4 separate regions of the Homo sapiens genome follow, and regions 2, 3 and 4 are each linked to region 1. Evidence: fine-mapped expression QTL. A gene starts in region 1. Each other region holds a variant in brackets. All regions are shown on one strand. Distances are from middle to middle.

Region 1 (7,698 bases):
AGCCATTTAAACCTAGATACCTGGATTTGAATGCCGGCTCAGCTGTTTACTAGCTGTGAGGCTTTAAGCAAATCACTTAACTTCTGTGTCTTGTTTTCTTCACATGTAAAAGGGGATCCTTACTAAAATTATAGGTTAAGATAATGTATATAAACCACCTAGCATGATGCCTGCTGAATAGATCATTCTTGAATAAAGCTGTGTATTTTCCCTGTTTTATAAACTTAATAAGCTGTATCAAGGCAAATAAGAAGCTTGTCTCAAAAGTAAATACAGGCTGGGCATGGTGACTCCTGCCTGTAATCCCAACACTTTGGGAGGCCAAGGCAGGTGGATCACTTGAGGCTAGGAGTTCAAGACCAGCCTGGCCAACATGGTGAAACCCTGACTCTACTAAAAATACAAAAATTAGCTGGCTGTGGTGGTGCACACCTGTAATCCCAGCTACTAGGGAGGCTGAGGCAGGAGAATCACTTGAATCCGGGAGGCGGAGGTTGTAGTGAGCCAAGATTGTGCCACTGCGCTCCAGCCTGGGCCACAGAGCAAGACTCCATCTCAAAAAAAAAAAGAAAAAAAGTAAATACAGTATTCTGCTTTAGAACTAGGACCTATCTTCAGTTTTATTTTTTCCTCAAATATATAAAGCCGGGCATTTTCACTAATCCTGCATTTCTGCTTATTTTCAGGGACATATTTGGAGAAGACTGTGTAAGTGTAAAGGATGACTCTATTCTTAGCGTCACAGTGGACGGGAAAACTGCCAACCTTAACTTGGAGACACGGGTATGTAGCTGCTCTTTCCTACGTTTCAAGACATTTGGGAAATAAAGTGAAGGCATAAATAATCTGTGCTCTCACACTCAACAGTCTACTGTTGCATATTGGCATTTGCTTCCAGTGTTTCCAACATTTTTTTCACATTGTTCTTTTTATATTATTATGGTTGAAGTTTTCCGTGTTTTTCCGGGTTACTGCATAGTACAAGGTTCGCGTGTATGCCACTCCATTGCTGTCCTCTTCCATAATACAGCTTAGTTCACCTCATCCCTTCTCTAGTTTGGCATCTAGTTGACTCTCCATTTTTTAAAGAAGCCGCTCTTCTGTTTGCACCAGCAAGATCCAAGTGGATTTTCCAAACAGTTCAAAACCAGCCCGGGCAACACAGTTAAACCCCATCTCTACTAAAAAATACAAAAAAAATTAGCCGGGAATGGCGGCAGCTGCCTGTAGTCCCAGCTACTCAGGAGGCTGAGGCAGGAGAATTGCTTGAAACAGGGAGGCAGAGGTTGCAGTGAGCCAAGATCACATTACTGCACTCCAGCCTGGATGATAGAGCGAGACTCTGTCTCCAAAAAAAAAAAAAAAAAGAACTAGAGGCCAGGCGTGGTGGTTCACGCCTGTAATCCCAACACTTTGGGAGGTCAAGGTGGGTGGATCATCTGAGGTCAAGAGTTTGAGACCAGCCTGGCCAACATGATGAAACCCCATCTCTACTAAAAATACAAAAATTACCCAGGCGTGGTGGTGTGCCTGTAATCCCAGCTACTTGGGAGGCTAAGGCAGGAGAACCCAGGAATCACCTTAACCCAAGAGACAGAGGTTGCAGTGAGCTGAGATCACATCACTGCACTCCAGCCTGGGCGACAGAGCGAGATTCTGTCTCAAAAAAAAAAAAAAAAAGAAGCAACTAGAAGATTATTAGTGAGTTTCAGTCAAATTCAGTACCAAATGTTGAGTAGATAGCCACATCCATTCCTTGCCAAGTAATTTGTGTGGCATAGATGAACTTCCCTGGAGTATCATTTACTAGATCAAACTGTGGGCTTTGATGTAAATGTAGTTTACTAGACTTTCCCCAGTCTTTCACCCCAGCCTCAAGTCATCACTAATTAGGACCGTGCTGCTGTCAGGAAGCACTGCACGCCCACAAGTGTGTAGGGCGGCCGTTCTGTTTCATGGTAATCAGTCCCACCATGACCTCTGCACACACAGATGATTGTTCTTTTTTTTAGTTTGAGACCCGGTCTCGCAGTGCCGCCCAGGCTGGAGTGCAGTGGTGCAGTCACAGCTCACTGCAGCCTCAACCTTCCCGGCTCAGTGATCCTCCCACCTCAGACTCTTATCTGGGACCACAGGCACACGCCACCACAGCTGGCTAATTTTTTATGAGATGATGGTTTTTTTAAAGAGTATTCATTTATCTTCTATATAATCATTATAGACTTAATTCTAACAGTCTTGTTTGTGCCTCACTTTCAGACTGTAGAATGTGAAGAGGGAAGTGAAGACGATGAATCCCTCCGAGAAATGGTGGAGCTGGCTGCACAGAGACTGTACGAGGCCCTGACGCCAGTTCACTGAGACTGTGCCTGTATATGAACTTTGAAAAAATACTTGACTCTACTTTTGTTACCTAAAATAAAATGCATTCGTTTCTCTGGGGGAGCCTGTTTACTTTTAATGTCAAATGGCCTTTATTTCAACAGCCTGAATACTGCTAAATTGCTAATTAATTTGTCCATTATTCTAGAACTAACTACTAGATCAACTGCCCATTATTTTAGAATTTTGGATTCTTCTTCCAGGCATGTATGTGCAGCTCCCATTGAAACCATCAAGATCTGCCGATAGCAACCGCTGCTGGTTACCCTCTCCTCTGGGGTAACCAATTTGAGTTAATAATAAGGATTCTAAGTTGCACTTGAATCTTTTCTGTCTTCATCTCCACTGCTGCTGTTCGAGTCCAAGTCTACTCTCCCCTCTGAATTCCTGCAACCACCTCCATCTCCTCCCCTATAGCTGATTCCTGGAACAGACCTGGCCTCAAGCCTCTGCTGCTTGAAGGCCTTAATGAAGTCCTTGTGATAAAGATGAAGTCCAGGCACCTTTGCTTGCTCTAGCAGGGGCTCTCAATCTGGGCTACCCGTGGGAATCACGTGGGGTGCATCACAAGTGCACCTGTGCCCAAGTCCTGCCACCAGGAGGTGAGTTAGTCCGGCTGGAATGAGGGCCCTAGGTTGGATCTTAGTTGTAAAGCTCCCCCAGGTGATCCAAGCGAGCTTGGGACGAGCAACCTAAAGAAAGTCATGCTCTACGCCCATCGCCCCGCCCCAGGGAGCGGGGTCGGCCTCTGCGCCGGCGCCCCTGGCCCTTCTGTTACTCATCTACAGCTCCGTGATTTCAAGGCATCCTTCCCACCCGTTCGTTTTTAGCTCGGCTGCCGAACTTCATTGCACAGTTGAGGTAAGAACGTTGCATTACAACCACGTTTTAACAGGTGAATCCCTTGGAAGTTAGTCAGTGCTCCGTGTCCGCGGGGTTCTGCATCTGCGCATCCACCCCACGGCGGGAAAAAGAAAAGCGGCCGGCTGCGCGCGCACTGAAGGTGCAGCTGCTTTCCCTTGTCATTCGCAGAACCACGAGGTACTGCCAGGGTTTCCGCAGTGCCTGCGTCCTCGTGGGTGTTACAGGCCCTCCAGAGTGACGCTGGGCGCAGGAGGCCGCGCGCGCATCCCACGACCTCTTCCAGGGGGGCCTGGAGCAGCCCTCCGCCCCACCGAGAGCCAGCTGTGCTTCCCGCCGCGCGTCCTGAGGTCACACTCCTGCCCTTTGCCGAACGCACCTGCGCCCGCGGAGCGCGGGGTGGGCTTAGAAGGGCCCCCAACCGCTTTTCTTCCGGGAACCACGCAGCGGGACGCGGGCTCCGGACTCCCTGGGGGCAGCCTTGCTGTGGGTGAGCAAGCGCGGAGGCCGAGCTTCTTGCAAACGGACTCCAAGGGGCAACGACCTTCGCGCGTCACCAAAGTGACTGCGTGGGTGCCCACGAGCCCGGCTCCCGCAACCCACGGGCGGCCACTGCGCAGGCGCCTCTCGTGGCTGGCGGCCCCGCCCCGCCCCGCCCGGCTGCTCCATGGCGCTGTGCGAGGCCGCGGGCTGCGGGAGTGCCCTGCTCTGGCCTCGCTTGTTGCTCTTCGGGGACTCCATCACCCAGGTACGGCCGCCCCGACGCTCGGCCTCCCGCCCCGGCCTCCCTGCGGGGTCGCTGCCGAGCAGGCCGAGGCTCCTCGCCGTCCTCTTCGGCGCCCGAGACGGCTGGGCCGGAGGCCTGGCCACGCCCGTGGAGACACCGGAGGAGTGGCGGGTCCCCCAGTGGCTGCGCCTTCCGGGCCCGCGGCGTCCCGGAGGTCACGACGGCGTCCGCGAGAGCCCGGGCTCCAGGCACAGACGCGAGGGGACCCGGCCGCGCTGCCCGCCCCGCGCCGCCTCCCACCCGGGTCGAGATGCGCGGTCTTCCCCTCAGCGCCCTCCTGGGCAGCGGCCTTTCCCCTCCGGGTCCGGGTTAGCGGCCGCGGGCGACCGCGCGCTGTGTCCCAGGAGGCCCCGCGGCCAGCTCCGGGCAGAGGCGCCAGGAGCTCTCTCGCCCCATTCCCTGCGGGCACAGGTGGGGCCGTTAGGGGTTGACCTTGGAAGTAAAACGCCTTCAGGAATTAGGTAGAAAAGGACCATCCGTTCATCCAAGATCATCTCACCTCCCATGAAGGGAACGGTCTTCTAAATGCAGGTTCTTACTTCGGGGAGGGAGTAGAAATTCCATTCCTGTGTGTGTCCTCTTCTCAGACAGGACTTGCTTCACCAGGCTTTTGTGTATACGCCAGTAACTGGTAACATTATGTTTAGGCATATGGGGCAGTCAGAGCTGCCGAATTCCATGGGAATGTGTATGAAAAAGTGTTCACCCTCAGCTCGGTAACCAGCAAAGCAGTGAGGCGGTGTGGCCTTCATTTCCTCACTGACCTTTGACTTTATTTCCTGAACTTAGATTTCTGTTTAGCTTTTTTTTTTTTTTCTTTTTTTCTTTTTTTGAGACGGAGTCTCGCTCTGTCGCCCAGACTGGAGTGCAGTAGCGCGATCTCGGCTCACTGCAAGCTCCGCCTCCCGGATTCAAGCGTTTCTCCTGCCTCAGCCTCCCGAGTAGCTGGGATTATAGACGTGCGCCACCACACCGGGCTAATTTTTGTAATTTTAGTAGAGACGGGGTTTCGCCATGTTGACCAGGCTGGTCTCGAACTCGAGACCTCATGTGATCCGCCCGCCTTGGCCTCCCAAAGTGCTGGGAATACAGGCTGTTTAGCTTTTGATAGAGAAAAATCCCCCTCTGCTAAAGTGCTGCCAGGTGTACTTACCTGTAATCCCCAAAATGACCTCCTGGAGTGAAGCAATCAAAGCCAAGAAGGGAGCGCCGAGAAAACAGAAGTTGCCAATCAGAACTGCCCTCGCTGAGATGCCCGGTTACAGTCATTAGTAGTAATAATGGGCTTTTCTTCCTCCAGTTTTCCTTCCAGCAGGGTGGATGGGGAGCATCGCTGGCTGACAGGCTGGTCAGGTGAGAATGGTTTCCGATACTTGAGTTCTTATGGATGGAAAATGTCTTAGGGATCCGTCTTATGGATGAAGGATAGTTCTGAACAGAACATTCCTCCTTTATTAATTTTGCTTGCCTCCCCTAATCAGTATATAGGAGAAGGAACAGAAAACATTTACTCTTCACTCAGTCTGACCAATTAGATATTTTAGGGTTGAGCACTGATGGCTGGGTAGACTCAGACAAATCAAGGAAATGGCCAAGGCCTCTTCCCTAGTCAGGGGCAGACAGATCCAAGTCCAGCTGCTATGACTGCAGAACTTGCAGTTTCACTGCTACACCACACTGGTAGGAAGCTACTTTGCCTTTTTTTGAAGTGCTGCCATGACTTAAGACTCACCTTGTCACAATTCTACCGCACTTTGTTTTGGTTTTTGGTGGTTTTTGTTTTGCGACAGGGTCTCTTGTTAGGCGCGTCCACGTGAAGAGACCACCAAACAGGCTTTGTGTGAGCAACAAGGCTGTTTATTCACTTGGGTGCAAGTGGGCTGAGTCTGAAAAGAGCAAAGGGAGATGGGTAGGGCAGTACTATAGGATTTGGGTAGGTAGTGGAAAATTACAGTTAAAGGTGGTTATCTATTGTTAGCAGGGGAAGGGGGTCACAAGGTGCTCTGTGGGGAGCTCCTGAGACTCATTGTCCAGGGGAGGAATGCCACAAGGTCGATTGATTAGTTAGGGTGGGGCAGGAACAAATCACAATGGTGGAATGTCATCAGTTAAGGCAGGAACTGGCTGTTTCACTCCTTTTGTGGTTCTTCAGTTGCTCCAGGCCACCTGGATGTATACGTGCAGGTAACAGGTTATGACGGCTTAGCTTGGGCTCAGAGGCCTGACAACTCTGTCACACAGGCTTGAGTGCAGCAGTGTGATCAGGGCTCACTGCAGCCTCCACCTCTGGGGCTGAAGGCATCATCACCTCAGCCTCCTGAGTAGCTGGGACCAACAGGCACTCGCTACCACACCCAGCCCAGCACTTCATTAAAGTATTGTGATTTCACTCTGTAAAATGGCTAGTCGCATTTTATAATCATTACACACACAAACAATCTCTTAGAAATAAGGCTGAGTTTCGGTGGTGGTTCTGCAGTTTATAAATGCCACCTGAGAACTTTGAGCAGTGTCAGAAAGTGTCCCCTTGTGCTGCTTTGGAGCCGCTGCCTGACGCTGTGGCCTGCAGTTCTCCGCGGGTGCCCCAGCTTCTCTGCTTGGTTATGCATGTATGGGAATGTGAATACAGCAAAATGAACCATATTGATTTACTAATCATAAGTTGAACCCCAGGCGTCATTTTAAGAAAACTTTATGGACAACTTTAAATATCTACAGAAGCAAAGAGTGAAATGAGCCCATCCATCCCTCCTATGGATTATTCTGAAGCAAATCCCAAATCATATCATTTTACCAAGACTAAGAAAAAAAGAGTCCCTCTTATGTGACTGGTATTCTCTGAGGGGTTTCAAACCTACTGCCTGATGCGAATCCTTAACTGGGATTCTCCTCACTTTACATGTGAGGAAGGAGCACAGCGTGCCCAGGGTCACGCCTAGTCACACAGGGAGCCGAGAAACAAATCCAGGCAACCCGGCTTTTTTTTTTTTTTCCCCCATTACACCTACAGTACTGTGAATCCAACTGTTTTTAAGAAGGAAACAAAAAGTATTAACCGGTTTAAGTTGAAACACAACGAATGTATTTACTAAAACTATTTAATCAAAACCAGAAATCTCAAATATTCTATAGACTGTTTAAATATAAACCAAACTAAACTATTTAAGTTCCAGGATATTAGTGACTTTTTACCTGAGATACTTGCTCAGATTATCTATCTGTTGTGAACTCCATTTTAAAAGCACCTCACTATACCATGCTTGAAGTCAGGTAGTCTGTAGACTTCATCACAGCCCCTTTATATATAATTACTTCTCTCACGGAGGAGTATGGTGTATTTACCTGTATCTTTGAATGGCTTAAGATTAGCATGCTTCAGCTATGTTCTTGCTCCTATCAAAGTGAAACCTGGGGGTGGCTCAGAGACACGTGACGGGTTTAGAATCCCAGAGAGCACACCCTCACTAAAGGCCGGTTACTGCGACCATAAACACTTCTTGCCCACAATTCATCTTTTTAAAATTTTTCGTTTCAGAAAATGTGATGTTCTGAATCGTGGATTTTCAGGTTACAATACCAGGTGGGCCAAAATTATCCTTCCAAGATTAATCAGGAAAGGAAACAGTTTGGACATCCCAGTAGCAGTTACAATTTTCTTTGGGGCCAAT
Region 2 (7,698 bases), 270 kb after region 1:
GTTGGGGAGTTTTAGGCTTTTCAATACTTGCAGCATAAAACGCCCCAAATTCTTAGTTTATTCCTGCCTAGAGATGAACAGCACAGGCTCCAGAGTTGTCTGTGTCTGAATGAAAACCTTAGCTTTGCTATTTATTAGTTATATTCCCTTGGGCAGGTAACGTAGCCTCTCTGTGCCTCAGTTTCCATGTCGGTAGAATGAGGTGAATAATCCTACCCAGGTAATGGAGGTGTAAATCAGCTACTGCATGCAAAGAGCTTGACAAGGCACCTGGCATGTGACAAGGCCTCAGTGTAAAACAGTTGTTCTCATCACATCCCTCAGCAGGTCGGACGATGGTGGGGGTGGCCAGTCCAGGGGCTGTGGGCTCCCTTTCTGGGTGGGCAGGCTGAGAGGGGTCATCTGCAGGGATCCGGCTTTGTTGAGGGTTGCCTGGGAACCATGAACTTCCTGCAGGAAGAACTCTTCTCCTGGGGCAGGCTGCTGTAGGAGGGGTCCTCTGGCACCGGGACAGGAACTGAAGCCGGTCTTGATCTGCTCAGGGACTCAGCAGAGATGCAGCCCCAAGCCACCCGGCTACTGGTCTAGTGGGGGAGGTGTTCACCACCAGGTCCTTTGCCCCATGATTCTCTGCCCGACGGAGGATTGGCCCCAGTCCAAGCCTTGCCCTGTACTTATGACCATTTTAAACACATCTGCAGATGCTGTCATATTCAATAAAATATATCCTTGGAAAGGCAATGTGAAATTTATAGTGGCTTTTCATTCTTGCACATTTTCTCAATTACGGATACTAAAAGCCTAATCATGATCATGTGAGGCTTTGTAATAAAATGGTTTCATAAAATGTTAAGAAAGTGTCTGAAGAATGTTGGAAGCCTGTCCCACTGGAGGGTGACCCCTCTGCAATCCCGGCAGGAGGCTGTGCAAGCTGGAGTCCACACCTGCCACAGGAGCTCCCGCCTCCAGGGGAGCCTGTCTACAGGCAGCTCTGATTTTTGGAAAGCCGACAGCTATGCTGCCTGTGACCCTGCCTGCGACCCTGCCTTCCTGTCACCGCACCTCACAGTCCTGTTATCCCTCCTGGAGCACCTGAGAACAAAGGTCTGTCTTTTCCCCACCACAGTCCTCCCCATCCCCCTCTTCTGCCGACTTCTATCTTCAAGGTCACTCCCTGGGCCACCTCAGTGGGGCCTTTAGCCCAGCTCAGCCCCTTCTGCAGGCAGCACCATTGGCGCTGGTGGCTGCCCTGACTCTTGGTCCCCTGTGAGTGTCCTGTCTATTTTGCAGCAGGAGGGGAAAGGGTCCAAGGAGAAAGCCAACAGGTGTCCTCATGAATCCAGAAATGTCTCTCCCTTCCCACCACCTTAGAGAAGTGGTGCCTCCCCCTGTTACCGCCATCCCCTTTCCTCCCCACACCCACTGTGTGAAGAAGCACAGTGCCATGGAAAGGCCTAGAACTGGGAATCAGGGCACATTGGGTGTGCATTCCTTTTGGACCACTCACTAGCTTTGCAACCCTGGCAACTTCCTTGTCCTCTGACTTCAGTTTCTTCATCCAAAAATGAGATTGGCAATTTCACCTCCCAGGGCTTTTATAAGGATTAGGTGCATGGTACTTAGTAGGTGCTTTGTAAATATTAGATAAGCCTTGATCTCCTGGGCTCAAGCAATCCTCCCACCTCAGCCTCCAGAGTAGCTGGGACTATAGCTGCACACCATCACACCCACCTAATTTAAAAATTTTTTTATAGTGACAGAGTCTCGTTCAAGTGATCCTGCCACCTTGGCCTTCCAAAGTGTTGAGATTACAGGCATGAGCCGAAATTCTTGAACAGGGGCCACAGGATCATATTACAACTTCATAATATTTACCTGGAGAGAATTAAGCTGATAAGTGAATATAACAGGTGTGAATTTCATCTTTTCCCTGGCCAGAGCACCTGAAGAAGAAAACAATGATCCCAATCACCTTTACTGAAGCAAATCCTATCCTCTGGTTCTATCTTCACCTGGGGGCCTCTAACATCCTTCGAAGATGCTTCGCCGCAATTCCTTCCAGAAGTCTGCAGATGCTTGCCTGTGCTTGGCCATGCTGGAGTGACCACGTGGATCACGTCCCGGCTCTTCTTCTAGGGGCTCAGGACCGCTGGGGGTGGGGGTAGGGCAGTGAGAAATTGGAGGCTGATGCATTACCTATGGACCCATAGTGAGTACCCCAAAACCTAGCAGCTTACAACAGCTTTATGATCTTACACAATTTCTGAGGGTCGGAAGCCCAGCTTAGCTGGTACCTCTGGCTCGGACTCTCCTGCGAGGCTGCAGTCAAGTCGTTGGCTAGATCTGCATCATTGAAATCCCGGAAGGCCGGAGGATCCATTTCTAAGATGGGGAACTCCCATGGCTGGTGGCTGGTGTCCTCAGTTCCAGGATGGCTGTTGGCTAGGGCCCCCAAGGACCCCCAGCCACCTCCAGACTCCACATAGGTGTCTCCAGGGCAGTTGACTCCCCAGAGTAAGTGATTTGGTAATGAGCAAGTGACAGTGCCACTAAAACAGAAGCTGCTGTGTCCTTTATAACCTAACCTCAGAAGTGACATCCCATCACTGTGGCTGTATTTACTGAGTTGAGTCCACACTCCAAGAGCAGGCTGTGAGGGCCGGGAAATGGGATCACTGGGCGCCCCCCTGGAGCATAGAATCCAAGCAGAGAGGCCTGGCCACTCTTAAGTGACATTTCCCTCAGTCTGGGCAGCCCAAGGAGTTGTCGTCTACTCTGAGTGGGGGTGGGAGAGCCATCTGCTCCCAAGCTTTTCCTGGGGCAGTGCCAGATAATCCAGGCAACCCCCCTTTTCTATAAAGTTTTTCCTGGTGGCCATTACATTCCTCTTCTTTGATCTAGACATCGCCCTACTGTTGCCTTTACCATGAGCTTTCCAAACAAACAACCTCAAATTAATAATAAGCACAGCTCTCGTACTAATTACCATTTTAGTCCTAGGCCTAGTCCTAAGTCCTTGGTGTGGAACTCTCACCTGGGGAGGCTCAGCCAGTTATCCAAAGGACCCGTCCTCATGTTAACCTGCCCCCCCTGATCTCAGGGGTTCTGGAAGGCAGAGTGTTCCTCCTGTGACCCACAAGGCAAACCTCCTGTCATGGCATCAGGACCAGGCTACACAGTTTGGGAGGCCCAGTGCCAAATGAAATGTGTGGCCCCTTGTTCAAAAATTATTAGGAATTTTGGCAGGGCTCAGTGGCTCATGCCTGTAATCTCAGTGCTTTGGGAGGCTAAGGTGGGAGGATCACTTGAGTCCAGGAGTTTGAGACCAGCCTGGGCGATGTAGTGAGTGAGACTCCATTTCAACAAAAAATTTAAAAATTAGCTGGGTGTGTTGGCATGTACCTGTAGTCCCAGCTACTTGGGAGGCTGAGGAGGGAGGGTTACTTGAGCTGGGGAGGTGGAGGCTGCAGTGAGCCATGATTGCACCACTGCACTCCAGCCTGGGCGACGGAAAGACCCCATCTCAAAAAATAAAAAAAATTTTTTTAACATGATGACAACATTAAACTAATTACAGGAGCCTTGGAAGTGCGGGGCTCTGTACAACTCTGCAGGTCACATGGGCATGAAGCTGGCCCTGCACAGCACAGAATGCAGCAGGTCTGTTGGAGTGAAAGGTGTCACAGTGGGTTTGTGTCTCTATCCCAGGGCCTGGCACTGGGATGTCCCCCCGCTTGGCCAAGGCTGCTCATGCCCCCAGCCCTGGGGAAGATGTGGCTGATGGTCACAGCATCTTCAGAGACCCCTCCCCTACCCCCAGAGAGTCAATTCACTTCACTTCATGGGTCACGGGATTCTGAAATGTTTATGAAGCTGCCTGTTAGTTCTTACTTAGTTTTAAACGTGGCCCCTT[A/C]TTCTACAACTCAGACAGAAGTCACATCAGGCTTGAGGATAAACCCTGCCTACTTAATTTCAATTCTCACAGACTCCTCAGCTTTTCAGAAATATATTTTATGTATGTATGTATGTATGTATGTACGGAGACAGGGTCTCACTTTGTTGCCAGCTGGAGTGCAGTGTGATCACAGCTCACTGCAACCTTGAATTCTTGGGCTTAAGTGATCCTCTCGCCTCAGGTTCCCAAAGTGCTGGGATTAAGGGCATGAGCCACTGTCTTTCAACATATAGTAGCTGGTTTATTTCATAATTGCTATGTTTTGAATGTGTCCCCCAGAAGTTAGGGCTTTAGAAACCTAATCCCTTTGCCCTCTTGAATGGATTAATGGATTCATGAGGGCTTTGCCTTTATGAATGGATCAATGTCACTATCATAGGAGTAGGTTCATTATCACAGGAGTGATTTTGTTATAAAATGGAGCTCTCTGGCTATCTTGCTCTTGCTCTGTCACCATGTCCTTTGCTGGGATGCATCGTCATGCAGCACAAAGGCCCTCGCCAAGGGCTGGTGCCATGTTCTTGGACTTCCTAGCCTCCAGAACGGTGAGCTAAATAACCTTTCTTTAAAAAAACAAATTACCCAGTCTGTGATATTCTGTTGTAGCAACAGAATACAGATTAAGACAGTAATTCTATGTATTATTTTATTTGATTCATTATTGGCAGCCACCAAACTACCAAAGGGGTCCATGGCACAAAAAGGATAAGACTGTCAGGAAGAGATGACCTGGCAAATGCAGATGTGGAAAAGGAATAGGCTTGGAGCAAATGCAAGGTTTAATCGCTCTTTCAGGGTTGTATGCTCCCTGCCCCTACTAATTTAGTAAATGGCTTTGTCACGGGTGTGTTATTGTTTGCTTTTCTTTATGGCATCCCTCATGTCTGGGCTAAGCAGGTGACTAAGCACTTGGGGCTTGATGGGCTGAAGATGGGGCATCCCCAGGCTCTCTGTTCTTGGAGAAACAGCTGCAGAGTGTTCCTTGAATATGTGTCAGGATCTAATTTTACTAGGAGGAAAAAAACCCTGTGAAACTATAGATGCGAATGTGAAAGAACAGAGGGGAGGTTATCTGCCTTGGGCCTTCCCTTCTCGTCCTAGTCATTTGTTGAGCATTTACATGCATTGCCCCCATTTAATTCTCGTAGAGCGTGGGAAGTAGTTTTCTATTCCTACTTAACAGAAGAGGAAATGTTACAGGAGGTATTTCAAGACTTACTCCAGGTAAAGCTGTTTGCAAATGACAGAGCTAGAGCTTGGTGGTCCCAAAGCCTGTGTCATGCTGTTCTCACTGCCTCTGTGCCCAGCCTATGTAGGGCAGGGAGAAGAACACCAGGGTGGCATTAGGCAACTCATGGGTGTCTGGAGAATCAAACAAGGCAATATATACCTGATGAAAGGAGCCTCAGAAATTCAAAGCAAGTGATTGCTTTCATCTAGGATGGTCCAAGAAGTCTTTCTTGAGCTGGATCATAACAGATTCAGACATGGAGAGGTGGAGAGAAAGCTGTGGGGCTGATCGTGGGGGGTAGGGGCAGCAAGGGGATGGGTAAGGACAGATCAGAGGAGGTGGAGGGGATCAGTAAGAGAGGGGGCTGGTGGCCTGGGATGGATGAACGCGAGCTTGATTGCCAAGTTGAGCAGTTTATACTTATTTCAGTAGGATATTGGGGAGCCACCAAAGTTTCTTCAGAGGGGAAGCTGTACAATAAAGCTTCACTTTAAGAAATGAATTGGGAGTTAGGGGGTGGCAGGCCTGGAGACTGGGAAACTGGTTAGGAAGTTATTGCAACTGCTTGGGTGAGAAATGCTGAGGACCTGAAATAAGGTGATGGAGGGGAGACAGGAAGGTCAGCAGGAGCTGGACGCCTGATTGCATGGCAGGGCACGGGTGGCTGGGAGGACCCAGCGGGGCATGTGGACAAGAGAGAAGTCACGGGAGGCTGAGAGGACCAGCTATATGGCTTTTAGCATTGGAGTGGCCACGGGGAGTTTTAGCTAATTCATCCTGCAGGTTCCCATAGGTTCTGCAAGGGAAGCCCAACTGGCCTGTGATAGATACCTGTCTGGAGCCCAAGCTCTCCAAGCTGTCTCCTGGTTTCCAGGAGAGATCAGCCCTTGCCCCAGGCCTGCTACATTGGCTTTCGCTTTTCCCAGTTTAGCCCCAGAAGTGGTGGGAGCAGATGCTTTGACCACAAACTAGAGCCATGAAGCCAGTTGTGGTGGCATGGAATGAACTGGGGAAGTATTGCACCTGTTCATGGAACAGGTGGGATGAATGAACTGAGGAACTGGCCTCAGACCCGGGGAAGTATTGCACCTGTTCATGGAAGATGATCAAAGAAGCGGCAGGTGCATTTTCTTCCTCCTTTGCAAATGGCCAATCGCCCTGAGTTTTCCATGAAAGAAAGGGCCACGGACAGTAATGGTGCAGCTCTCAGACTCTGGACCCCAACTATTAGAGTTGGGCCCAAATCCCAGCTCTGCAGGTACTTGCTGTGAGACTTTGGGCAAGTTACTTAATCTCTCTGTCCATCAGTTGCTTCATCTGTAAAATGGGGATAATACTGGTACGCACCTCCATGGACTACGGAGGATAAGTGAGTTAAAACACAGAATGCTAATCGTGCCTGGTATGTAGTTGGTGCTTAATAAATAAATGTTGAATGAATTAGTTTTTTAGAATGAAACATCCCAAGGAGAAAAATCAGAGGTGATTTTTTTTTTCTCTTTTGCATGTGAAATGGAAAAATCTAGATAAGAAAGTGCCTAGCTTTGTTCTGGCCATATCACAATAGTCCATTTGAGTTGGGGGAGAGGGGAGTTACTGGAGGGAGTACCCTAAAAACTCACAAAAAATGATTTCCTTTCTCTGCTTGTTGAAATTCTCCCTTCAAGGCCCAGTTTAAGTGTCACCTCCTCAGAGCAGCCCTCCTTGGTTTCCACCCTTCCTCACCCCTGTCAGACTCGTGGCTTCCTCCTCTATTCTCCCCAGTGTTCAGCATGTAGGTTGATGGTAGCACTCACTAATTCTGCTTTGTTTTACCTGTACTCAAGTTCATGGCTGTCTCCTCTCTGTGGTGGAGCTTTGGGTTGGACGGGTCTGGGAAGTCCCACCTACAGCTGACAGGCTGGGCTGGGCTCCAGGCCATCACAGGTCCCCCATCAGCAGCTCTCTCAACCCTGGCCTTGTGCCTACAGACCAAATGTGGCCAATGCGTTGAATTAGCAGCACTTTCAGGATCAAATCACAAAGCAACTCCTTCCTCTGTCCTGATTTAGTCAGGGGAATCACCTCTTCTCGGCCACTGCTGCAAACTCAGGCAATCCTATTACGTTTCTGGTTGCTCTTAGTTAATAAAAACTGTCTCACTGCAGGAAGGTTAAATGTCCCGTCCTGAATTTGAGTGAAAATGAAGTCTTCTTGCCTCTGCTGTCTTGAGCTTGCTGCAGGTAGGAAGCCTGCAGCTGGGAAGGGGCTTAGCTTTTCCCTCCTTCCTCACCCAGCTCACTGTCCGCATGCTACTCAGACATCCCCGCATCTGACCCAGCAGACCGCTCCTGCTCCTGCTCCTGCAAGTGTCTCCCCTGGCTCCTGTGAGGCCCACTGGCCTGGTGTCCGCTCTTTCTGAGGCTGTGACATTGGAGCTGTCTCTTTGGCTCTTCTCCGTCCACACTCTGTCCCTGGAGAGCTGCACCCCAGCAACATTCCCGTCTCTCCCTTCAACCCAGATACTCCCTGA
Region 3 (7,698 bases), 33 kb after region 1:
AAAACCTGGGTAACTTTCTAACTTGTAACCTACTTCCTCCACACTATTCCAGTATATAGAATCATGATAACATTCATATCCCAAGACTGTCATTTTGATTGTTTCCAAAATTTTGCTATTAGGATGTAGCCATAAAAAAACCTTGTTAAATCTTATACCCTTGTTAAATCTTATCTCTGTTGCCCAAAAGATTCTTTGGGCAGCCAGGAGCAGTGGCTCACGCCTGTAATCCCAACACTTTGGGAGGCTGAGGCAGGCAGATCACGAAGTCAGGAGTTCGAGACCAGCCTGGCCAACATGGTGAAACCCCATCTCTACTAAAAACACAAAAATTAGCTGGGCGTGGTGGTGCACACTGTAATCCCAGCTACTGGGGAGGCTGAGGCAGGGGAATGGCTTGAACCCAGGAGGCGGAGGTTGCAGTGAGCCAAGATCACGCCACTGCACTCCAGCCTGGGCGACAGAGCAAGACTCCGTCTCAAAAAAAAAAAAAAAGAAATAAAAGATTATTTGGGCCAGGCATGGTGCCTCATACCTAGAATCTCCACACTTTAGGAGGCTTAGAAGGGTGGATCACTTGAGCCCAGGACTTTACAACAAGCTTGGGCAACATGGCAAAACCCCATCTCTATAAAAAATACAAAAAAAATTAGCCAGGTGGCACACACCTGTAGTCCTGTCTATCCGGGAGGCTGAGGTGGAAGGACTGATTGAGCCTGGGAGGTTGAGGCTGCAGTGAGCCATGATCATGCCACTGCACTCCATCTTGGGCAACAGACTGAGACCCTGTCTCAAAAAGAAAATAAAGGCCAGGCACGGTGGCTCCCCTCTGTAATCCCAGCACTTTGGGAGGCCAAGGTGGGCAGATCATGAAGTCAGGAGATCGAGACCATCCTGGCCAACATGCTAAAACTCCGTCTCTACTAAAATACAAAAAATCAGCCAGGCGTGATGGTGCGTACCTGTAGTCCCAGTTATTGGGGAGGCTGAGGCAGGGGAATCGCTTGAACCTGGGAGGCGGAGATTGCAGTGCGCTGAGATCGCGCCACTGCACTCCAGCCTGGCAACAGAGCGAGACGCCGTCTCAAAATAAATAAATAAATTAAATTAAATAAAAAAGATTATTTTGCCAGGCACGGTGCCTCACACCTGTAATCCCAGCACTTTGGGAGGCCAAGGTGGATGGATCACAAGGTCAGGAGTTGGAGACCATCCTGGCCACCGTAGTGAAACCTCGTCTCTACTAATACAAAAAATTAGCCGGGCATGGTGGTGCGTGCCTGTAGTCCCACTACTCAGGAGGCTAAGGCAGGGGAATCACTTGAACCCGGGAGACAAAGATTGCAGTAAGCCAAGATCGCGCCACTGCACTCCAGCCTGGCGACAGAGCAAGACTCTGTCTCAGGAAAAAAAAAAAAAAAAAAGATTCTTTTAACTATAGGACTGCTAAACCAAGGAGCATGCAAGGTCAAGGATTTTGTTACATAATGTCACACTGCTTTCCAGAAAGCTTCTTCTTTTCTTATTTGTTTTTTGTTTTTTAAGAGATAGTGTCTCACTATGTTGCCCAGGCTGTTCTCAAGCATTTCTCCCACCTCAGCCTCCCAGAGTGCTGGGATGACAGGAGTGAGCCACCGTGCCAGGCCCAGAAAGCAATTTCTTGCTGTGAAGGGCAAAAGAGGTAGATGTAAACAAACACACTCACACCCCTTTCAGTTGATTCTAAAGCCCCTGCAAGTTCAGTCTTCTCTTATTTTGGACATCTTGTTATACCAACTTCCCAAAATCCCTGTGGAGAGACTCCTCACCTGCACTGGACACCTTCCTTCAACGTGCAGTCGCTGTTGCAGCAGGTGTCGTTGTTCAGATACATGATGCCAGGATCACACTCTTCTCCTTCATCCACCCTCGAGTTCCCACAAACTTTATTGCTGCGTTCTTGAAAACACTCCTGGGCCTTACTTTCAATGGTCTTATAGATTGATTGTTTACTGCAGTTTGAAAACATCTTGAGAGAAAAAAGGCAATAAGGACCCAAAATAATATCATAAAAATGTATTCCCATGCAATGTTTGTGTCTTCTCTAGAGACAAACTCTTAATGTAAAACCACCATCAGAGCCACCCTGGAGTTATGGCAAGGCCACCACAGTCTCCTCCAAAGGCCACTGATATGGAACTGGGAACCTCCCTCCATAGAATGCTAAATGGCTGATGTGAACTTGGTTAAGGATCTATAATTCTTCTTACGAAGGTAAGCAAGCTATACAAATACTGAGACCAAACATCCCAGTCAAAGCCCACTTAAGGACAAGCAGAATAGCACAACAGAGAGCTCGTAGCTCCATCAGACTTGAAATCTCCTCACCTCAGGCATGCCACTCATGCAGTGACAAGAATTAAGAACCTCTGTAGGTTAATGTTGTCCCAGACAAAACAATTCAGAAATGCAGGAGAAGGGGTTTCTTCTCCTTCTTTGGCTACTTATATGGATGATCCAAGTTTAAAGTTGTTTAAATATTTGAGCTTAGTAATAGGCATAATAGTACATTTTATATAAATTAAATCCCCAATTGTTACCTAAACATTTTCATCAACCAGCAAGACCAGTGTCTCAAAAAGTCTCTACACTACCTTCCCACCCTGGAGTACAGAACCACTAGGATAACTCCCTTTTAAGGCTGAGGGTTTTATCAGGAGCTCTAAAACTGCGGTCATTTTCCAGACCTCCTGAAGTTATCAAAAAAAGAAGAGGCTTAGGGAAAACTGAGCATAGTTACTTCTTAGGTCGGGGTCTCCAAAGTGCTCTGCAGATGCCAAAATGGCTTCACTTTCACCCCAGACAACAATCATGAAGCCCCTGAGAGCCAAGTGTATGAGACCCTCCAAAGGTGCCTGTAACCACCAAATCAGACACCAAAGGAGCTACTTTCAGAAAGATAGCAAAGACCTCATCTTACACAGAAATACTAACTGGCTTTTTAAAAAACATCTTCAAATCT[GT/G]TTTTTTTTTTTTTTTTTTTTTTTTTTAGATGGAGTCTTGCTCTGTCACCAGGCTGGACTACAGAGGCACAATCTTGGCTTATTGTAACCTCCGCCTCCCGGGTTCAAGTGATTCTTCTGCCTCAGCCTCCTGAGTAGCTAGGACTACAGGTGCATGCCACCACGCCCAGCTAATTTTTGTATTTTTTGTAGAAACAGGGTTTCACCATGTTGACCAGGATGGTCTCGATCTCTTGACCTCATGATCTGCCCACCTCGGTCTCCAAAGTGCTGGGATTACAGGCGTGAGCCACCGCGCCCGGCCCAAATCTGTCGTTACAGTACAGATGTCTAAGGGGTCTGGTTATTCTAATCGGGGCCTCAGGCAGTTGTCATTTTGGTGGGTTTATTCATCAACATCATGTATCTCTGGGTTCCATTTTATCAGGTTAAAATGGAGTTAAAATTCACAGTGAACAGATAAGAAGACCTCTTCACTGATTTGTCAGAGTTACAACTCCCAAGCAGCTGGAGAGCACTAACGATAAAAGGACCAACCCGCAACTCTGGCTTTCTGCCTACACATCCCTGAAGATCTGGCAGCTTCTGTTTGCATCCTTGTCATAAGACTTCCTCTTCCGTTCAGCAAACCTTCCTAAGAAGTTACAATCTCAAAGGTCCTACATTCCTTTTCACTAATGTCATCTGTCCACAGAGAAGTCCACCTGTGGCAAACTGCTCTTCATAGGCTTGCCTAGTAGAGGGTGATGGGTTCTGTCTTTCTAGGTCAAGGAACTACTTTATTTTTGTCCTGTAAGCCCTTTTCATCAGTTAAAAATATTTTTATTAAGGAATTCATTTAAAACATAGGCTGGGCACAGCAGCTCATGCCTGTAATCCCAGCACTTTGAGAGGTCGAGGCAGGTGGATCACCTGAGGTCAGGAGTTTGTTGACCAGTCAGTTGACCAACCTGGCCAACATGGTGAAACCCCATCCTACTAAAACTACAAAAATTGGCCAGGTGTGGTGGCATGCACCTGTAACCCCAGCTACTCAGGAGGCTAAGGCAGGAGAATCGCTTGAACCTGGGAGGTGGAGGTTGCAGTGAGCAGAGATCACACCACTGCACTCCAGCCTGGGCGACAGAGTGAGACTCCACTCAAAAAATCATAATAAATAATAATAAATAAATAAAACATAGAAGATGCACATTATCTTCTTACAAGGGGACTCCTACTTGGGCAACCAAACTAGAAAAACACAGACTAAATATGATGTGCTCAGGACAAAATAAATAAATTGTTCTTCATTGATACAGACTGGCAGCTCCAGAAAAAAAAAGTTCTTCCCAGGCCCCATTCTCATTAGCAAGTTCTTTTTTTTCTTTTTCCTTTTTTTGAGATAAAGTCTCACTCTGTCATCCAGGCTGGAGTGTAGTAGCACAACCTTGGCTCACTGCCGCCTTGAACTCCCCGGGTTCCTCCTACCTTAGCCTCCTGAGTAGCTGGGACTACAAGCATGTGCTTCTATGCCCAGCTAATTTTTGTATTTTCTGTAGAGATGGAGTTTCACATGTTGTCCAGGCTGATCCTGAACTCCTAGGCTCAAGTGATCTGCCCACCTCGGCCTCTCAAAGTGCTGGGATTACAGGTGTGAGCCACCATGCCTCACTGGCAAGTTCTTACAGGGCTGTTTTGAAGAGCCCCAGAACTGGCAGCAGGAAGAGTCAGCAGCATGCATGTCCACCCAGGCAGTCTGCAAAGTAAAACATTTTGCTCCCAAGTTCTGACACTATCCTCATAACCAAGAAGCATATGACCTATTACTTAGAGAAACAGTATGCAATATGGTAGCCACCAACCATATGTGGCTACTTAAATTTTGTTCCTAGTCACATATTTTACAGTTTCTATTACAGAAATATTCAAGCATCTATGAAGTAGACAGGATGGTATCATGAATGCCCCCGTGCCCCTCACCAGCTTCAACAATAATCAACTTATGACTTCACAGCTCCTCTACATCCGCGCTACTTTTCCTCTGCTCCCACACTGCTGTTTTTGTTTGTTGGCTTATTAACAACTTTATTAAGACATATTTCACATATCACAAAATTGATCCATTTCAAGTATATAACTCAGTGATTTCTAATAACTTTACCAAGTGTTGAAACCATTGCTATAAGTCAATTTTAGGACATTTCCATCCTTCCAGTAATCTCACTCATGTCCTTTTACAGTTAATGCCCATTCCCGTCTCCCATCACAGGCAAACATTATTAAAAATTTAAATAAAATAGAATTTACAATTCAGTTCCTCAGTTTCTAGCCACATTTCAATTGCTCCACTGGGCTAGTGGCTACTATACTGGGCAGAGCAGACACAAAACATCCCCCGCCCCGCAGCAGAAAGTTCTATTGGGCAGCACTGAACTATAGTGAACATGATTAGAAATGCAGAGACTATGAAAAGAGAAGGAAAATTCAACAGTTTGACAGGTTGGAAGAGTAGACAAAAAGGGGTAGAAAAATGTTTCTCTGGCACAAGTTGTCAAGCAGAGGAAAAATAAAACATAACATGCAAAGTAACAGAGGAACTGTTTACACATAACAGCCAAAGAAAATGAGATGCAGAAAATATACATAAAAAGCCAAAAAAAAATGAGATGCAACAATCAAAGATCACAAAAAGAACAGGAGGCAGAAATTTCAGAAAGCAGGGTGTCAGAGCCAGGGAAAAGCAGAAGTAATCTTGCCCTCTGTGTCCAGGGAAGGCTTGCACATTAGCCCACAGCCAAGCTCAAAATAGGAGTCAGGACAAATACTTCACAATCTTTTGTGATTAGAATCAGACTCCTTTAAGCTCTCCCCACCGACCCTCTTTAACTCAGCAGTGCAACTATTGTTTTCCTCACACTGCTTTATGCTGTTTAACTTCAAATAAAATGAAAGAACCAGATATTTATTAACACAACTTTTAGTTCAGACTCTAAGAGTTAGTCACGGCACTCTTAAAGTCTCTGAAAGTGTTTTACAGTATCACAAATCAACTAGTATTCTCTATCAGAAACCCCCAATAGTAAATGATTCCATTAATTATTCAACAAATATTTGTTACATGCCAGATACTCCTACTAGGCACTGGAGATAGAGCTATGAATAAGATAGAGCTATGAATAAGACAGACAAGGAAGGGCCTTTCTCCCATGAGGCTTGTAGTCAGGCAAACTATGTGTTTAACTGCAAAAGTTAATAAAAACGTGTAAACTGTACATGTAAATTGTAGAGTTAAAATGAATGACAACTTGTAAATGAAATGACAAATTTTTAACATAAAGCCTGAGCCCACCAGACCCTGAAATCCAGAACTCCAAAAAAAGCCATTATTATTAGTAATTTTTCCTAGAGCTCAAATCTACACCATTAAGCTTGACAACAAAGTCCAAATGATAGTTTTAACCAGATTTAGATGAACCGTGCTTCACCCCAAAACACACAACCACGTTTCAAGGTACTTTGTAATTTGCACATCCATCCCTAGGGAAACGCCTAGGAATGGAATACGTTTCTGAGCTCTCATTATGATCATTATACACAGCCTCTTTCCAAACCACATAAAAAATTCTCGACACACACATACCTTATTGTTCTCGTGATCGCCACTCACAGCTATGGGATACATGACATATTTCCCTCCCTGGTCCTCATTCGGGGCACATTCTGCTAGACCATCCGGATCATGTTCTGCTCCAAAATTATGTCCCAATTCATGAGTTGTAACCAGGTCAGCTTCCTTAAGGATCATGCAAAGAAAACATTATTTCTCAATATCCAGCCATCACCTACTTCTGCCAGTTGGGCCTATGCTGTCTTAAATAGAGCCTTATAATCAGATCAACAAGAGAATAAGAACTGCATGCTTATAATACCAGCACTTTAGGAGGCTGAGATGGGAGGATTACTTTACTCTAGGAGTTTGAGGCCAGCCTGGGTAACACAGGGAGACCCTATCTCTACAAAAATAATAAAAAATATTAACCAGGTGGGCTAGGCATGGTGGCTCACGCCTGTAATCCCAGCACTTTGGGAGGCTGAGGCAGGTGGATCACGAGGTCAGGAGTTCGAGACCAGCCTGGCCAACATGGTGAAACCCTGTCTCTACTAAAAATACAAAAATTAGCTGGGCATGGAGGCACGCGCCTGTAATCTCAACTACTCGGGAGGCTGAGGCAGGAGAACTGCTTGAACCCAGGGGGCGGAGGTTGCAGTGAGCTGAGATCACGCCATTGCACTCCAGCCTGGGAGACAGGGCGAGACTTCGTCTCAAAAAAAAAAAAAAAAAAATTAGCCAGGCATGGTGGTGCACACCTGTGGTCCCAGCTACTTGGGAGGCTGAGGTGAGAGTATCACCTGAACCCAGGAGGCTGAGGCTACAGTGATCTATGATCACACCACTGCACTCCAGCCTGGGTGACAGAGTAAGACTTTGTCTCAAAAAAGAGTAATAACCGGACTATGATTCTTCTACCAATTATATGAATTTAACAGAATAAGTAGGATTTTATTTAATACTATCAAACATTATTGTAAGTAGTAACAAATCAATTTAAGAAAATGTAATTTATAAGATATACTGGAACATTCATAACAAAACATCAAACCTTGGCCATTTCAACCACACACAATCTGGTGCTGATAAATGCAATAAGCTAACTGT
Region 4 (7,698 bases), 24 kb before region 1:
AAAGTATAAAAATTAGGTAGGCATGGTGGTTCACACCTGTATCCCAGCTACTTGGAGGCTGAGGCATGAGAATCCCTTGAACCCTCGAGGCAGAGGCTGCAGTGAGCCAAGATCACGACACTGCACTCCAGCCTGGGTGGCAGAGTAAGACTGTCTCAAAAAAAAAAGAACAATCTGTCTTGTAAGATAGAAGTTACAAAAGTGAATGGAAAGGGACTGGTAGCTAATGCTGTTGTTGTAAATACCCTCTAAAATATTCCATTTGGGGCTGAGCACAGTGGCTCATGCCTGTAATCGTACCACTCTGCAAGGCTGAGGTGGAAAGACTGCCCAGAAGTTTGAGACCAGCCTAGACAACATAGTGAGACCTTGTCTCTACAAGAATAAAATAAAACTAGCCAAGCATGGTGGCTCATGCCTGTAGTCCCAGCTACCTGGGTGGCTAAGGTGGGAGGATTGTATAAGCCTGGGAGATTGAGGCCACGGTGAGCCAAGATTATGCCACTGCACTCCAACCTGGGCAACAGAGCAAGACTCTCTTTAAATAAAGAAATATATAAAGTAATAAAATGTTCCATTTGGTTCTGAAATATTTTATTAGGATAGGTACAGTGGCTCACGCCTATAATCCTAGCATTTTGGGAGGCCAAGATGGGCAGATCACTTGAGCCCAGGAGTTCAAGACCACCTTGGGCAATATGTGAGACCGTGTCTCTACAAAAAATACAAATATTAGCCGGGCATGGTGGCGTGTGCCTGTAGTCCCAGCTACGTGGGAGGCTGAGGCAGGAGGATTGCTTGATCCCTGGAGGTTGAGGCTGCAGTGAGCCATGATCACATCACTGGACTCCAGCCTGCGCAACAGAGTGAGACCCTGTCTCCAAAAATATATCAATATATGAGGTAGGCCAGGCACAGTGGCTCAAGCCTGTAATCCCAGCACTTTGGGAGGCCAAGGTGGGTGTCAAGAGTTCGAGACCAGCCTGACCAACATGGTAAAACCCCGTCTCTACTAAAAATACAAAAAATTAGCCAGGCATAGTGGCGTGTACCTATAGTGCCAGCTACTCGGGAGGCTCAGGCAGGAGAATCGCTTGAACTCAGGAGGTAGAGGCTGCAGTGAGCTGAGATCACACCACTGCTACCCTCCAGCCTGGGCGACAGAGCAAGACTCCATCTCACAAAAAGAGAAAAAAGAGAACCATGGGTGTTTTCTAAGACAGTAGGGTAGCAATAGTTTTGTACAAGAGTCATAGGCATTTAAAACTAGAAGAGACTACAGAAGTCAGCCCTTTACAACTGTGAACATAGAAGCAGTGAAACATGGAAAAGGCGTGTATCTCATTAGTGGCAAAGACTGGAGTAGAAAAGAAGTTTCTTTACTCTTTGTTCAAATAGTACCACATAAGGATCAAACAGAATGAATATGTGTATACAAGTTGAATCGGCTGGAGGTCCTTAAAAGTAGTAAAGTTTCATAACTTCCAAGTATGTCTCTATTTCATATATTAAATATATTTCATATATTTAATTCAACTTAAGGACCATGATTAAGCTGAATGATGTTTCCATATATTCTTTTAACATTTATTCTATGTAGATTTTAGTCCATGGAGAACAGAATGAAATGGCCAGATTGAAAGCAGCACTGATTCGAGAATATGAAGATAACGATGAAGTTCACATAGAGGTTCATAATCCTCGGAATACAGAAGCAGTGACCTTAAACTTCAGAGGAGAAAAACTAGCCAAGGTAAAAGGTTATGGTTCCTGTCTGTCCAATCCATGTTTTTTCTTCAGGAAAGACTGTACTTCTTAAGAAAATAGATCTTTAGTCAAAAGAATATGCTTATTTCTGTCTACTTGTTACACTACAGGAATTTTATCCTTATCCTTTTTGGCTTCTTTTGGTTCTGTGCATTCATTTCTTCAGGTGGAAAATGTTCAGCTAGATTAGATTTTTTGTGTGTGTGTGTGTGAGACGGAGTCTCGCTCTGTCACCAGGCTGGAGTGCAATGGTGCGATCTCGGCTCACTGCAACCTCCGCCTCCTGGGTTCCAGCGATTCTCCTGCCTCAGCCTCCTGAGTAGCTGGGATTACAGGTGCGCGCCACCACGCCCAGCTAATGTTTGCATCTTTAGTAGAGATGGGGTTTCACCACGTTGGCCAGGATGGTCTTGATCTCTTGACCACGTGATCCACCCACCTCCGCCTCCCAAAGTGCTGGGATTACAGGCGTGAGCCACCGTGCCCGGCCTAGATTAGATCTTAATGCAGCTGAATCTCATAGCTCTTTAATCCATATCCCCACTTGCTTTTCCTACCCACATCTGAGGGTAAAGAACTGTTTGTTACTGTTTGTTACTGTAGCCAGTATAGCCTTGTGTCCACCTCTTGTCATTCTCCCTGAGAATCTGAAGATAGGCTCATATCTCTAAACATATATGTTTGTGTAGATATGATGGAATATATGAAACATTTTCTCTTTAAAAATTAATCGGCCGGACACGGTGGTTCCTGCCTATAATCCCAGCACTTTGGGAGGCCAAGGTGTGTGGATCACTTGAGGTCAGGAGTTGGAGACCAACCTGGCCAACATGGTAAAACCCCGGCTCTACCAAAAATAAAAATAAAATAAAAAAATTAGCTGGGTGTGGTCGCAGGTGCCTGTAATCCCAGCTACTTGGGAGGTTGAGGCGGGAGAATCCCTTGAACCCAGGAGGTGGAGGTTGTAGTGAGCTGAGATCGAACCTGAGAGATGGAGGTTGCGGTGAGCTGCGATCGCGCCAATGCACTCCAGCCTGAGTGACAGAGTGAGACTGTGTCTCAAAACAAACAAACAAACAAAAAAGAAGTAATCAAGGCTGGGCACGGTGGCTCACTCCTGTAATCCCAGGACTTTGGGAGGCCAAGTCAGGCGAATCGCTTTAGCTCAGGAGTTCAAGACCAGGCTCGGCAACGTGGTGAAACCCAGTCTCTACGAAAAATACAAAAATTAGCTGGGTGCAGTGGCATGCTCCTGTAGTCCCAACTACCTGGGAGGCTGAGGTGGGAGGATGGCTTGAGCTCCAGAGGTTGAGGCTACAGTGAGCCATTGTCCTGTCACGGCACTCCAGCCTGGGTGACAGAGCAAGACCTTGTCTCAAAAAAATAAAAAAAGAATTAATCATTTTTGAGAGTGAAATGTAACATTTTCAGAATTTAAAGTTGAAATAGTTAAGGAAAGCCTGAGCTGGCTTTTTAGAGGGATGCTGTCAGAAGTCTGCATCTTTACTTCTGTTGATCACAACTCGTTTAGAAATACTTCTAAGAGAAACTTTTTAAAAATTACATATATAATTTTAAATTTTTAAAAAGGAATTGAAATCATTATGTTGAAGAGATATGTGCAACTCCCATGTTCTGTTTTTTTGTTTTGAGATGGGGTCACACTCTGTTGCCGAGGCTGGAGTGCAGTGGTGCATTCATGACTTACTGCAGCCTCGACCTCCCTAGGCTCAGCTGATCCTCCCCTCTCAGCCTCCCAAGTAGCTAGGACTACAGGCACAAATTTTTTTTTTTTTTTTTTTTTTTAGAAGGAGTCTTGCTCTGTCGCCCAGGCTGGAGTGCAATGGTGCCATCTCGGCTCACTGCAACCTCCGCCTCCCAGGTTCATGGAATTCTCCTACCTCAGCCTCCTGATTAGCTGGGATCACAGGTGCCCACCACCACGCCCGGCTAATTTTTTTTGTATTTTTAGTAGAGACAGTGTTTCACCACATTGGCCAGGCTGGTCTCGAACTCCTGACCTCAAATGATCCACGTGCCTTGGCCTCCCAAAGTGCTGGGATTACAGGCGTGACCCACCGTGCCCAGTCTGAGGCTCAAACTTTTAATGATTTAGTTGAAGGTTTAAGTATCAACATATGGGCCAGGTGCTGTGGCTCACGCCCATAATCCCAGGACTTTGGGAGGCTGAGGCGGACAAATCATCTGAGATCAGGAGTTCGAGACCAGCCTGGCCAACATGGAGAAACCCTGTCTCTACTAAAGATACGAAAATTAGCCAGTCGTGGTTGTGCGCAACTGCAGTCCCAGCCACTCGGGAGGCTGAGGCAGGAGAATCGCTTGAACCTGGGAGGCGGAGGTTGCAGTGAGCCGAGATCATGCCACTGCACTCCAGCCTGAGCAACAGAGCAAGACTCCGTCTTAAAAAAGCAACTTTACGACACACTTTTAATACATAATGAGCCAAACCTGCAGACGCTAATGAATATCCTTTCTTGAAGGTGAATTGGAGGAAAAAAAGAAATTAGCAAAACTTAGGGTATGAGGTTTTTGTTGTAAATAGTCGTAGTTACTCCTGAGTCTTACTGTCCACAAAACTTTTCAGGGGCCGATTTAATAGTATTTTTCTTATACCTGTAGAAAAATATACTCAGTTGAGAATCTAGAACTGTATTTCACATACTCTGCTGGTGGTGGATATGTGGGGAGAAAAAAAAAGTTTTGCAGTCAGACAGTTTAGAAGATGAATTGAACTGAGTTCAGGAAAAGTTGGGTTTCTTATC[G/A]GAGTGTTCTGTTTCTCACCCATAATTTTAATGATTTAAAATCATTACCTTTAGTTATTTTTCTCTCTCAAGTACATCACTGTATTAAAATTAGTCTCCTAGGAGCAAAGGTTCTTTTCTGAAAGCTACCTACAATTAAGGAGAAAATAACCCTAGGAAATACTGTGAAATACAACCCTCTGTGTTTATAATTATGAGAACAAATATAGCACTGCCTGGTTGCTGTTTGCCCTTACTTGCTTAAAGGCAAACAAGTATGGAACACACTACCTTTATTCCTTTGAGCTCATTTATTTGCAGTTGAGAGAAGTTATATTTAAGAATACTGGGTTTCAGCCAGGCTTGGTGGCTCTCGCCTGTAATCCCAGCACCTTGGGAGGCCATAGCAGGCAGATCCCTTAAGCTCAGGAATTGAAGATCAGCATGGGCAACATAGTGAAACTCCATCTCTACAAAAAATACAAAAATAAGCCAGGCATGGTGGCGCACATGGTGAGCGATGATCGCACCACTGCATTCCAGCCTGGGTGACAGAGCAAGACTGTCTCAGAAAAATAAATAAATGAAACTTTTTTTTTTTTTTTTTTTGAGAAAAAGTCTCGCTCTGTCTCCAGGCTGGAGTGCAGTGGCGCGATCTCAGCTCACTGCAAGCTCCGCCTCCCAGGTTCACGCCATTCTCCTGCCTCAGCCTCCCGAGTAGCTGGGACTACAGGCGCCCGCCACCACGGCCAGCTAGTTTTTTGTATTTTTAGTAGAGACGGGGTTTCATTATATTGGCCAGGATGGTCTCAATCTCGTGACCTCATGATCCGCCTGCCTTGGCCTCCCAAAATGCTGGGATTATGGGCGTGAGCCACCATGCCCGGCCATAAATGAAACTTTTTAAAAATGAATAGTGGGGCTGGGTGTCATGGCTCACGCATGTAATTCCAACACTTTGGGAGGCCGAGGTGGGCAGATCATCTGAGGTCAGGAGTTCAAGACCAGCCTGGCCAATGTGGTGAAGCCCCATTTCTACTAAAAATAGAAAAATTAGCCGGGCATGGTGGTAGGTGCCTGTAATCCCAGCTACTTGGGAGGCTGAGGTGGGAGAATCGCTTGAACCCGGGAGGCAGAGGTTGCAGTGAGCTGAGATTGTGCCATTGCACTCCAGCCTGGCGACAGTGAGACACTGTCTCAAAAAAAAAAAAAAAAAAGAATAGTGGGTTTCACGTTTGTAGTATTTTTGTTTTTAAATGGTTGTTATTTTATTCTCTTAAAAATGTTTCTCCCTCAATGTATGAGCTCACCCATAACCTGTTTTTATTGACCTTTTTATTCAAAGCCGCTGCTGCTGCTTTTAGTGTTAGGTGTACCACAGCCTCCCAGGTTTGTATCAGTGGGCCTCACTCTCTGTTATGAGTTTGCAGCCAGCCTGAGGGAGTGCATGTGTGCGTTTCACGGGGACTTCCCGGCCTTCCCTACTGCAGTGCAGCTAGTGAGAGCTTTCTTAAGCCCCGGCACCTAGTAAGTTACTTGCTTGTTGAACTGATTAGAACTGAACTGTGCCAGATCTGCCACTGTGACTCTTCCCTTTGACATTGGTAGCAATGCAACTGCCCTCATCATAGAGATATCAAACATTTTATGTTTTTCGTGGTTAAATCCATATGTTGTTTTCATAGTTCAAAGGTGTTATGGTCTTCATTATGATGAACTGCATTTTATTACCTGAAAAACTGCATTTTACCAGGTTCTATTTTCTTCAAGTATTTTTTTTTTACAGGTTATGGGATTTTTAGCAGACAAAAAACCAGAACAAGGCCAGCGGGTCTCAGGAATACTTGTTAAAAGAAACTTTAATTATCACATACTTTCTCCTTGCGACCTGTCCAGTAAGTATACTATTAAATGTCAAATCCAACTTCACCTTAGCACTGAAAGAAAATCTATGAAAACTTCTCTTCACCTTGTGGCCTAATGTTATGTAATAGACAAATAATAAAAAAGGAATGAGGCAAGTTAGCTAATTAGCTTTGTGGGGAGAGAAAAACACCTCCCATGAACTACTGAAAGATTGAAATTATTGGTGAAATCACTTTCTTCATCTTTGGAAACATAAGTTCATTTCTGAGTTCACCTTGTTTTCTACCCTCTACAACAGACTTGTGGGCTTTTATTTTCTGAAGTGACTTTGGATTCCCCAGAGAAGCCGTTTGGTTTTTATGACCTTTGCATAAGCATTTCAGTTTTTTATGACCTTTACATCACTTGCAGGGCCTTTGTATTCCTTCACCATTCCAAAAGGAGTAGGAACAAAAACTTGTATAATTTCTTTAAAAGCAAAAAAGTATTAATGTAAAGCCTAATTTTTTCATTACATTGAAACTTTCAACATCCAAATAAGTAACACCAACTATATAACTGATGCCTCTAATGTGTGTGTATACATTGAAGCTCATTATAGAGAAAAATGAAAAATTGGGCAGGGTGCAGTAGCTCACGCCTGTAATCCCAGCACTTTGAGAAGCCGAGGCAGGTGGATCACGAGGTCAAGAGATCGAGACCATCCTGACCAACATGGTGAATCCCCGTCTCTACTAAAAATACAAAAATTAGCTGTATGTGGTGGCACGTGCCTGTGGTCCCAGCTACTCAGGAGGCTGAGGCAGGAGAATTGCTTGAAAGTGGGAGGTGGAGGTTGCAGTGAGCTGAGATAATGCCACTGCATTCCAGCCTAGTGACACAGCAAGACTCCATCTCAAAAAAAAGGAAAAATTGCACAAAACTAATAAGATTACATTTAAGTTTGTAAATTGCTTTTTTCCCATAGTTGATACACATTTCCATATGCATTCTTTGTCTTTATAAATTTACTGAGCCATCAATAAGTCATTTTCCAATGAATATGGTATTATTTTCGAGTAAATACTATGCTCAAGGTGATTTACATGGTACTAATACATTATATGTGCTTTATGCAGGAATAAAAAATAGCAGTGGCCCGGCACGGTGGCTCACGCCTGTAATCCCAGCACTTTGGGAGGTCGAGGTGGGCAGATCACAAGGTCAGGAGTTCGAGACCATCCTGGCCAACGTGGTAAAACCCCATCTCTACTAAAAATACAAAAATTAGCTGGGTGTGGTGGCATGTGCCTGTAGTCCCAGC

Which allele goes with the higher level. Positions count from the first base shown, and alleles are read on the strand shown. Sizes are in standard deviations (SD) of each study's normalised expression. Not every link is listed here.
For the expression in fibroblasts of the gene that starts at base 3,895 in region 1, C is the low allele of the variant in region 2 and A is the other (small effect, 0.39 SD a copy in GTEx).
For the expression in lymphoblastoid cells of the gene that starts at base 3,895 in region 1, allele GT in region 3 goes with a higher level than allele G (large effect, 1.2 SD a copy in TwinsUK).

The links. PIP is the estimated chance that this variant, and not a neighbour inherited with it, causes the effect. A credible set is the group of variants that fine-mapping cannot tell apart.
Region 2: its variant is the best candidate, but not a certain one, in a credible set for the expression of IAH1 in fibroblasts (GTEx, PIP 0.78).
Region 3: its variant is the best candidate, but not a certain one, in a credible set for the expression of IAH1 in lymphoblastoid cells (TwinsUK, PIP 0.83).
Region 4: its variant is the best candidate, but not a certain one, in a credible set for the expression of IAH1 in iPS cells (PhLiPS, PIP 0.63).

Annotation. Positions count from the first base shown.
Region 1 is chr2:9,470,657-9,478,354 of GRCh38, forward strand. IAH1 (isoamyl acetate hydrolyzing esterase 1 (putative)) reads left to right here and starts at 3,895. Exons shown (of 6, transcript NM_001039613.3): 1 at 3,895-3,991; 2 at 5,331-5,383; 3 at 7,566-7,698. The coding sequence starts at 3,911. It overlaps CPSF3 (cleavage and polyadenylation specific factor 3), which reads left to right. Exons shown (of 18, transcript NM_016207.4): 17 at 687-783; 18 at 2,260-2,445. The coding sequence ends at 2,361. RefSeq lists a silencer at 3,667-4,436 and enhancers at 3,706-4,473, 4,954-5,514.
Region 2 is chr2:9,743,867-9,751,564 of GRCh38, forward strand. No RefSeq gene overlaps it. Among named protein-coding and RNA genes, the nearest start is that of TAF1B, 96 kb to the right of the region's middle. RefSeq lists enhancers at 4,932-5,011, 6,859-6,938, 7,239-7,308. The variant A/C (reference allele first, on the strand shown) is at 3,914.
Region 3 is chr2:9,503,358-9,511,055 of GRCh38, forward strand. ADAM17 (ADAM metallopeptidase domain 17) reads right to left here. Exons shown (of 19, transcript NM_003183.6): 11 at 6,622-6,774; 12 at 1,809-2,008. It also overlaps a transcript of IAH1 not described here. Among named protein-coding and RNA genes, the nearest start is that of IAH1, 33 kb to the left of the region's middle. The variant GT/G (reference allele first, on the strand shown) is at 3,002.
Region 4 is chr2:9,446,598-9,454,295 of GRCh38, forward strand. It overlaps CPSF3 (cleavage and polyadenylation specific factor 3), which reads left to right. Exons shown (of 18, transcript NM_016207.4): 11 at 1,601-1,753; 12 at 6,316-6,424. Among named protein-coding and RNA genes, the nearest start is that of IAH1, 24 kb to the right of the region's middle. The variant G/A (reference allele first, on the strand shown) is at 4,551.